Linked DNA regions of Homo sapiens: all the other regions are linked to region 3. The links come from fine-mapping of genetic effects on gene expression. A gene starts in region 3. Each other region holds a variant in brackets. All regions are shown on one strand. Distances are from middle to middle.

Region 1 (2,764 bases), 100 kb before region 3:
GTCTTGAACTCCTGGGCTCAAGTGATGATCTTCCCACCTCAGCTTCCCAAAGTGCTGGGATTACACGCATGAACCACTGTACCCAGCCATGTTTTTTTATGAGCTCCATGGACATTTTCAAAGTCTTCAGACATTTTTTTCTTACAAGAAATTTGGTCATTTGCCTGTTACCTGAAAGATTTTTCTTTTTCTTTAAAGAACCATTACTTGACTATGTCTTGGTGTTGATCTTGGTATGGTCTTAAGAGTAGGTTCAAGTGTTTTATTTCAGAAAAGTTTTTTCGTATGATGGTTTTCAGTATTTGTTCTGTTCCATTACATGGGTTTGTTTTTTAGGGACTCTAATTATGAATGTATGTTGGGTCTTCTTTGACTAACTTCTTCTATTATTTTGTTTTTTTGAAGAGTTTTTTGGTAAAAACTGGAAAACCTGCCAGAGAAATTCTAAAGGATCTGTAACACTTGACTAACTTCGTTATTTTAAAAATTTCCTCCATTCTCTTTCCTCTTTTCTTGTGGGGTCTTTTACTTTGTGTTCCAATTAGCTTGTCTTTATTTCTGAAATAATTTTCCTTTTTTTCCTTGTAATTCTTAAGTAAATAAGAACACTATTTTTTGACCGATTTATATTAAAAATTGGAGACTTCCTGTGAACAAGTCTTGAACATCCAGTGTAATTTTTAAGTTATAGCACTTGTGAAGAGAAATATTATTGAAAAACAAAACAGTAAAACGCATCTCAGTCTCCATAGTTTTATAGGTACATCTCATTTGGTACAAGTAGAACCTGTAATGTTTATAGAATTGAAATGTAAATCAGTTTCTTCTGAACTTATTTGTGTGATTTAAAGTTGCTACTTTTTATTTATTAATCTTATAGGGATATGTTGAAAAACAAGATTTTAAATATGGATTAAAATATAAATAATTTTATTAACCAAAAATGTCAGTTTATTGGAAACATAAACAATTTTGTGTCTGTTGGGTGAAAAGTAGAATATGTTGTTTTATGCATATGATAGATTATTTTCCTTAACATTTAACAGTTTAACAAGTTATTTTGTGTTTTGTTGTTGTTGTAGTAGTTAACTACAGATGGAATTATTCGACAAAGAATCGTCAGAGGAACTCTCAAACTAATAGGCTTTTCTTGTTTTTAGAGCCTTATTGTCTTAATTATTAAAAGGCAGGATAAATGAATAGGTACTTTGAAGGCCATCTTAGTAAATATAGCCAGGCCTTAATTTTAGGTATTGTATATTTATATTTTTATAGCTCTTCGAGAGGTAATGGGAGAAAGATGCAGCTGAAGAAAGATGCAGCTTGGTGTATATTATTGTGAACTTTCCGAAGGCAAGAAAGAATTTCTGTTTTTCATGATTCTTTATG[C/T]TTTGGGAAGAATGTGGTAGAGAAGGTGCAGTGTAGAGAGAGATAAGTAGCTGCTTTACTGTCAGCATAGAATTAGAATTGGAACAAATTTTTTTTTTAATCACAGCAGAATGTTCTAGGTTTGAAAAAAGGATTTCTGTTTTCTGTTACTTTAGTTTTAAGTTTCTTACCTCAGTTCCATTGGTGCAGATAATCATCTGGTGATTAATATTTCACTTTGCAATATTTTGAGCATGCATATACTTAAATTTATTTTGTATATTAATAGTGGCTATTCTAAGAATGTAGGTGTTGGATACGGTGTGGTAAAGTCTGGGTAGCTGCAGGGGGATATGAGAATAAGGCTTAGAAGGAAGAATTTTATTATACTCACAGGTCTCAGGGAGGGTCACTGCATGCTACACAGGGGAAGCACCAGGTTTTAGTCAGGAAGCAGAAGACAGGAGCCACGGAAAAGTCCAGGCCAGAGTATTGGGATTTCCTGGGAAAGGCAAGGGAGGGCAGAGTAAACAGTTGAGGATTGAAGAGTTTGGATGATTCCTCCAGGCTTTGAGCTGTAGAGGTGGTCTCTAATTGCCTGGTACCTGACTCTGGAATGATTTAGGGCAGGAAATACTGGCTTCGTATGTGAGCGTTAGATAAGGAGGTGGATTTGGCTGTAGACTCAGGATTGGTTGGTTTGTATATGGAAGACATGCTCCTGTGAGCCCTCTTATCTCTAAGAAAGCACTAGCCCTGGCCAGCAAGCTTTTAAAAAGCCAAAACATAATAAAATATAGTAAATAAGAAACATGTTTTAAATGCAGTGGCCAGCTGAAGTTCTGTTTACCTTGTCAAATAATTTCTGTGTTAATAATCTTTGAGAACCATAGCTTTCTCAACAATTGCTTTCCTTTTGGTTCTTTATTATTTTTTATAAGTTCTCATTTCTTTTAGATAGTGATTGCCTTTTCTAAACACTGAAATACGTCTCAAGTATGTAACCTGATTGAAATATTTTCACAGGAGCATCTGTAATTGTTTTTTGTTTGTTTTTTGAGATAAGATCTCACTCTGTTGCCCAGGCTGGAGTACAGTGACGTGATCACTGTTCACTGCAGCCTTGAACTCCTGGACTTAGTGATCCTCCCACCTCAGCTTCTTGAGTAGCTGGCACTGCAGGCACATACCACTATGCCTGGCTAATTTTTTATATTTTATGTAGAGACGGGGTTTTGCCTTGTTGCCCAGACCAGTTTCAAACTGTTGGGTTCAAGTGATCCACCCACCTCAGCCTCCTAAAGTGCTGGGATTATAGGCTTGAGCCACCACACCTGGCCTGCAGTTGTTGCTGGAATGTTTTTGGTTTGATTTTATAACACTACTATGTGAATCA
Region 2 (2,764 bases), 150 kb before region 3:
GGGTGTATATATTTGAAGAACCTGATCAGAGCTTGTACATTTAGCTTGTACAGTCTAACTTGTACATTTAGACTCACATTGAACATCCACAATCTTAACTCCTTTCTTTTTTTTCTTGAGACGGAGTCTCACTCTGTCGCCCAGGGTTGAGTGCAGTGGAGCGATCTGGGCTCACTGCAACCTCTGCTTCCCGGGTTCAAGCAGTTCTCCTGCCTTGGCCTACGAAGTAACTGGGATTACAGGCACTCGGCACCACGCCCAGCTAATTTTTTGTATTTTTAGTAGAGATGGGTTTTCACCATGTTGGCCAGGCTGGTTACACACTCCTGACCTGAAGTGATCTGCCCACCTCGGCCTCCCTGAGTGCTGGGATTACAGGTGTGAGCCACCGCACCCTGGCCAGTCTTGACTCTTTAGAAGCAATGCAGAAGGCCGTTTTGCCATAATTTTACCAAGCGCTAATAGCATCCCATGTGTGTTAAGGTTAGTGCACTGCATGGAAACACGTAGCCTAGTCAACCACTCAACAGCCACATGTCAGTGTGGCTTTGTTGTTCTTCAATCATGTAGACTATTCAAATTATACTTACTGAATTTTATGGGATGATATAATATTGTTTCATGAGATTTACAGTTTAAGGATTCAGAAAGATCTGGGCCTCTTAAGAATGTCAAAGATCTATTATCTATGAGAAGTTTTCATATAGACAATGGCATAAGGCACATGTGGGGGACTGTTGGTGATATTAAGAGCCAGACCGGTAATTCCACAGACAATGCTACCTCTCTTTAAATAACTGATGCCTGTTTCAAAGTTAAATATTTGCAAAATAAACTAATTGCAGCTGAAGCAGAAAAATACTAAAAAAAAGTATTTTGAAGCCATTTTATTATTTATGCTGCCTTTATTTTTTATTTTTTTATTTTTTTGAGACGGAGTCTCACTCTGTCACCCAGGCTGGAGTGCAATGGCGGGATCTCGGCTCACTGAAACCTCTGCCTCCAGGTTTCAAACGATTCTCCTGCCTCAGCCTCCCGAGTAGCTGGGATTACAGGTGCCCACCACCACACTCAGCTATTTTTTGTATTTTTAGTAGAGATGAGGTTTCACCATGTTGGCCAGGCTGGTCTCGAACTCCTGACCTCGTGATCCGCCTGCCTTGGCTTCCCAAAGAGCTGGGATTACAGGTGTGAGCCACTGCGCCCGGCCTATGCTGCTTTTTAAGATACAGATGCTCTGACATCTTTGAAATATTGCAGTTTTGGGAAGTCTCACGTATTGCTGAGCATATTTTTCCCAGCATATCTTTGAAGGCACTTAAGGAAAACAAATAAAAATGTTTTTTAAAAATTCATTACTAAGCATAAGATAGTATATGGCTATGGTGAAAGAAATAGTGACTTATGAAATAAATTGCTTTACTAAACAACTTTCTTTTTATGTTTACTTAGATTGCAAATTAGGCCTGGTACTTTCTTTGAGGACCATGATGATAAGAAAATATTTGTATCAATTATCTCCATGCTGTAGCCTAGATATAAAGAAACTTAGATTGAAGAATTCATTTTACTTGTAAGAATGGGTTACATTCTTACAATAGGCTGGACAATTACTTTTCCTAGGATATTAGAAAAAAACCTGG[C/T]CAGGTGTGGTGGCTCATGCCAGCACTTTGTGAGGGCAAGGCGGGCAGATCACCTGAAGTCAGGAATTATAGACCAGCCTGGCCAACATGTTGAAACCCCATCTCTACTAAAAATACAAAAATTGGACAGGTGTGTGGTGGGCGCCTGTAGTCCCAGCTACTCAGGAGGCTGAGGCAGGAGAATTGCTTGAACCCAGGAGGTGGAGGTTGTAGTGAGCCGAGATTGTGCCATTGCACTCCAGCCTGGGCGACAAGAGTGAGACTCTGTCTCAAAAAAAGAAGAAAAACCTATGGCACTTTTTGTCTCTCTTAGAACACTATTCATATTCTACCTTGAAAAACTGGTTGTGTAAGTCAATTTCCTACAAAACTATAAACCAGTTGAGGGTAAAGATGTTAGTGTCCCTTAAAAATGTTTTCCCCTATGCTTCCTAGCGCTGTGTACACACAATAGGCACATAATAGGCACTCAGTAGATAATGAATGGAATGCAGCCTGCATCTTGGGGAACTAGGAGCCTAACCCACAGTGGGTTGGTGAGTTATTCTCCTCAATGATATCTGGCACCTTGGGGAGCTATTTATCATTTTCTTAAAGAATGATCATTTTCTTCTTTTTTATTTTTTCTATGCTTTCTATTTTTGTCTTTCATCTTCCTTTCTTCCTGTTTCTTCCCTCCAAACTATGCCTTTGGCTGCCTGCATGATATTCCAGCCACTGCACCCATAGGCACTTCCTAGACCTGCAGGGGGCATTCCCTGGAGTTCAGAGACATTCTGGGGTAGGCTTCCCATCCCATGATTCCATCAAGAACTTGATCACTGTAGCACCAAGGGAGGAAATGAATTCCTGCTATCTGTTCCCTATAGTTACTCTATTTTTACTTTTTTTTTTTTTAGACAGAGTTTTGCTCTGTAGCCCAGGCTGGAATGCAGTGGCACAATCTCGGCTCACTGCAACCCCTGCCTCCGAGGTTCAAGCAATTCTCCTGCTTCAGCCTCCTGAGTAGCTGGGTTTACAGGTGCATGCCACCACGCCCGGCTAATTTTTAGTAGAGACGGGGTTTCACCATGTTGGTCAGGCTGGTCTTGAACTCCTGACCTCGTGATCCGCCCACCTCA
Region 3 (2,764 bases):
AGGCCAAGTAAAATAAGCCAGGCACAGAAGGACAAACAGCACATGATCTTACTTATATACTTGGGGTCTAAAAAAGTTGAACTCATAGAAGCAGAGTAGAATGATGGTTACCAGGGGCCTGGCAGAGGGCTGATGTGGAAGGGAGGGATGTTGGTCAAAGGATACAAAGTTTTAGTTAGGTAAGAGGAGTAAGTTTTAGTGATCTACTGCACAGCATGGTGACCATAGTTGATGATGTATTGTATATTTCCAGGAGAGTAGATTTTCACCACAAAAAATAAGTAGGTGAGGTGATGGATATGTCAATTAGCTTGATTTAATCTTTCTACAATGTATACATATATCAAAACATTACACTGTACGCTATAAATATATAAATTTGTCAATAAAAATAATTATATAAATATATATTTATATAAAACAAAATACATGCTAAGGATAATGCAATGAACTGCAAAAAGTTGTACAGGCTCCCAATAAATAATTTTTGAACGCCTAAGAGCTAAATAAATGCAATACATCACTCCCAGGTGTCTCCACTAGGGGGCCCCATTCCCTCCCGTTCCATCACCTGCTTTCCTCAAGGTCGTCTCCACCCTCCTATTTGTTGATACCCGGCCTCTGACCCAGTTCATCACTTTCCCGGGCTTCCGGGCGCCACCCTCTTCAGGTTTTCCTCCTACCCCTCCAGCCCTGCCCCTCTGGATCTCCCATCCTCCCAGCGCGCCAGACTGCATGCGGCCTCCCCGCCCTGTGTCCAAGAGGCAGCTTCCACTCCACGCGGGCAAGCCTGAGCTCCAGAGCCGTCCTCAAGCCGCCTCCCCCCGAAGCACTGGGACTTCATCCTCCCGGCTACTACTCGTGCCCAGGGACTAGGCCCTGAGCCTTCCCTTCTCGCACGCCCCATAGCCAAGCTGCTCAGCAGAACCTGACGGCTCCACCTTCAAACTACGTCCGGAATCCGACCCCTCTCCACGCCCACTGCCTCCACCCCGGCCACCTTCCTCGGTCACCCTGGCAGCTGCAATGACCAGGGTGACCTTTCTGAAAAGGGAGGCTCTGTTCGGAGCCCTCGCGGGGCTCCCCAGCACAGCGGCCTCCCATGCCCACCTGCTCGGGTGGGATTACTTTCCAACCCCGTTTCCATCCCCCTCCCTGGTCTCCAGCCGCAGCGACCCCCACGCAGAGCCCGGAAGACCTTGGGCCCCGCACATGCTGCCGGCCCGCTAAGAGCTCTGGGTACCCCCGGAGCGCCTTCCAGGCTTTCTCCTAGAGGCGCTGTGTCCCGACCGCGCTCCGGACCTGAGCCACGGCTCACCTGGGGCAGCTCGCGCCCCCGAATACAGTCTCCCACGCCCCGCCCCCCGGGGTGCCTCCCTCCCAGCTCTCTGTACCCACCCACCATCCCCCACATCCCTTCCTCCAACCGCTAGCCAGTCACCAGCCCGGGACCGCAGGGCAGAGGCCGGGCCGCGCATGCGCACCGCGGACCGGTGCCACCTCCGCTCGCGAGCCCGCGGCAGGCCCTGGGCGGTGCGCGCAGTCCCGCGAGAGCAGTGCTTGGTCGGGACCTCGAAGCCGGAGCCCGAGCGGGAGAGGCCGCGGAGACCCCGGCCCGGCGCAGGCAGAGACGCACCTGCGGGAGGCGGGCGCGCCGGCTGGAGAGGAGGCCGTGGGGCGGAGCGGCTCAGCGTTCTGCTCGGCTGCAGCGGCCCCTGCCGGAGACCCGGGCGCCGTGGTCTTCTTTATAATTGAAGGATTGTCTCTCTGTTTTTATTTGGGGTGGGGGTGGGGGTGGGGGGCGGCGCAGTGACTTGCTTCGACTTTGTCAGCTTCCAGGGTTCATTCCACTGCCCAAATATGTAGTGAGTTACTACCGGCTTTGCTTCCTCCTTCAGCAAACGGCTGGACCACACAACTTCAGGAGAGAGGATTTTAAATGTTAGGGTCATTTTCCCTAAAACGATTTCAAATGACGGTGAGTTGGTTCCCAGGCTAGGCCACCTAACCTCGAACGCAATGACGAGTGCACTCTGACTGCTGAGCTGAGAGCCTTCCGTGGCTCTGGGACCCAGTGACTCACGTGGCTCCGCATGTCCCCGTTCCCTTAAAATCGGAGTCTTTCCTTTTCTTGGATTCCGGCTTGCCACCAGCACCACTTGGCAGAATGGAATTGCTTGCGGGCATGTCAGTGGACTAGAAAGGGAAGTAAGTGGTCTGAGAACTTGGGGGCCAAAAATGTTACATTAACATTTTTTGCCTACCTAAAATCTCAGCCACTTCCCACAGTTTGGCTGGAAATTCAGCCCATGTTGAGGCCCTTCTCATTCCTGCAGGTGTTACCAGCAACTCAGAGGTTTATGGAGTAACGAAATTGGGGAGGGCCTCACATCCGGCTGCTGTTTTTCCCCCTAACGTGTATGGTGCTTATTCTGAGCCAGACACTTTTAAGAACTGCACATTATTAACCATTTTAAATCGTCCCCACCACCTGATGAAATAGGTACTGTTATCCCCACTTTATGGGTGGGGAAACCGAGGCCCAGGGAGGTCAAGTAACTGCGCAAAGCACAAAACTGTTGAGTAGTAGTGTTACCAGGGCAGTCCTGGAGAAATCGCTCAGAGGGCAAAACTGAGAGCTCATTATTTTCTTAAACAGTAGACAGCTGAAAATGCTCATTGTTTTTTAAACCGTTTTGTTTGTTTGATTTTTTTTCCTAGTCTCTTTATCTATAGGTAACCCAGCTTAAAACAACTGCGGTTG

What was found. PIP is the estimated chance that this variant, and not a neighbour inherited with it, causes the effect.
Region 1: its variant is the best candidate, but not a certain one, in a credible set for the expression of SIRT5 in cerebellar hemisphere (GTEx, PIP 0.78).
Region 2: its variant is the best candidate, but not a certain one, in a credible set for the expression of SIRT5 in tibial nerve (GTEx, PIP 0.71).

Annotation. Positions count from the first base shown.
Region 1 is chr6:13,677,780-13,680,543 of GRCh38, reverse strand. All of the region lies in intron 2 of RANBP9 (RAN binding protein 9), which reads left to right. LOC124901523 (U7 small nuclear RNA) reads right to left here and starts at 464; the gene lies at 403-464. The variant C/T (reference allele first, on the strand shown) is at 1,390.
Region 2 is chr6:13,720,325-13,723,088 of GRCh38, reverse strand. No RefSeq gene overlaps it. Among named protein-coding and RNA genes, the nearest start is that of RANBP9, 9.9 kb to the right of the region's middle. The variant C/T (reference allele first, on the strand shown) is at 1,644.
Region 3 is chr6:13,573,179-13,575,942 of GRCh38, reverse strand. SIRT5 (sirtuin 5) reads right to left here and starts at 1,342. Exons shown (of 10, transcript NM_012241.5): 1 at 1,199-1,342. LOC105374937 (a long non-coding RNA gene) reads left to right here and starts at 1,509. Exons shown (of 2, transcript XR_926497.4): 1 at 1,509-1,978; 2 at 2,722-2,764. RefSeq lists enhancers at 405-990, 580-1,059, 991-1,577 and a silencer at 1,270-1,789.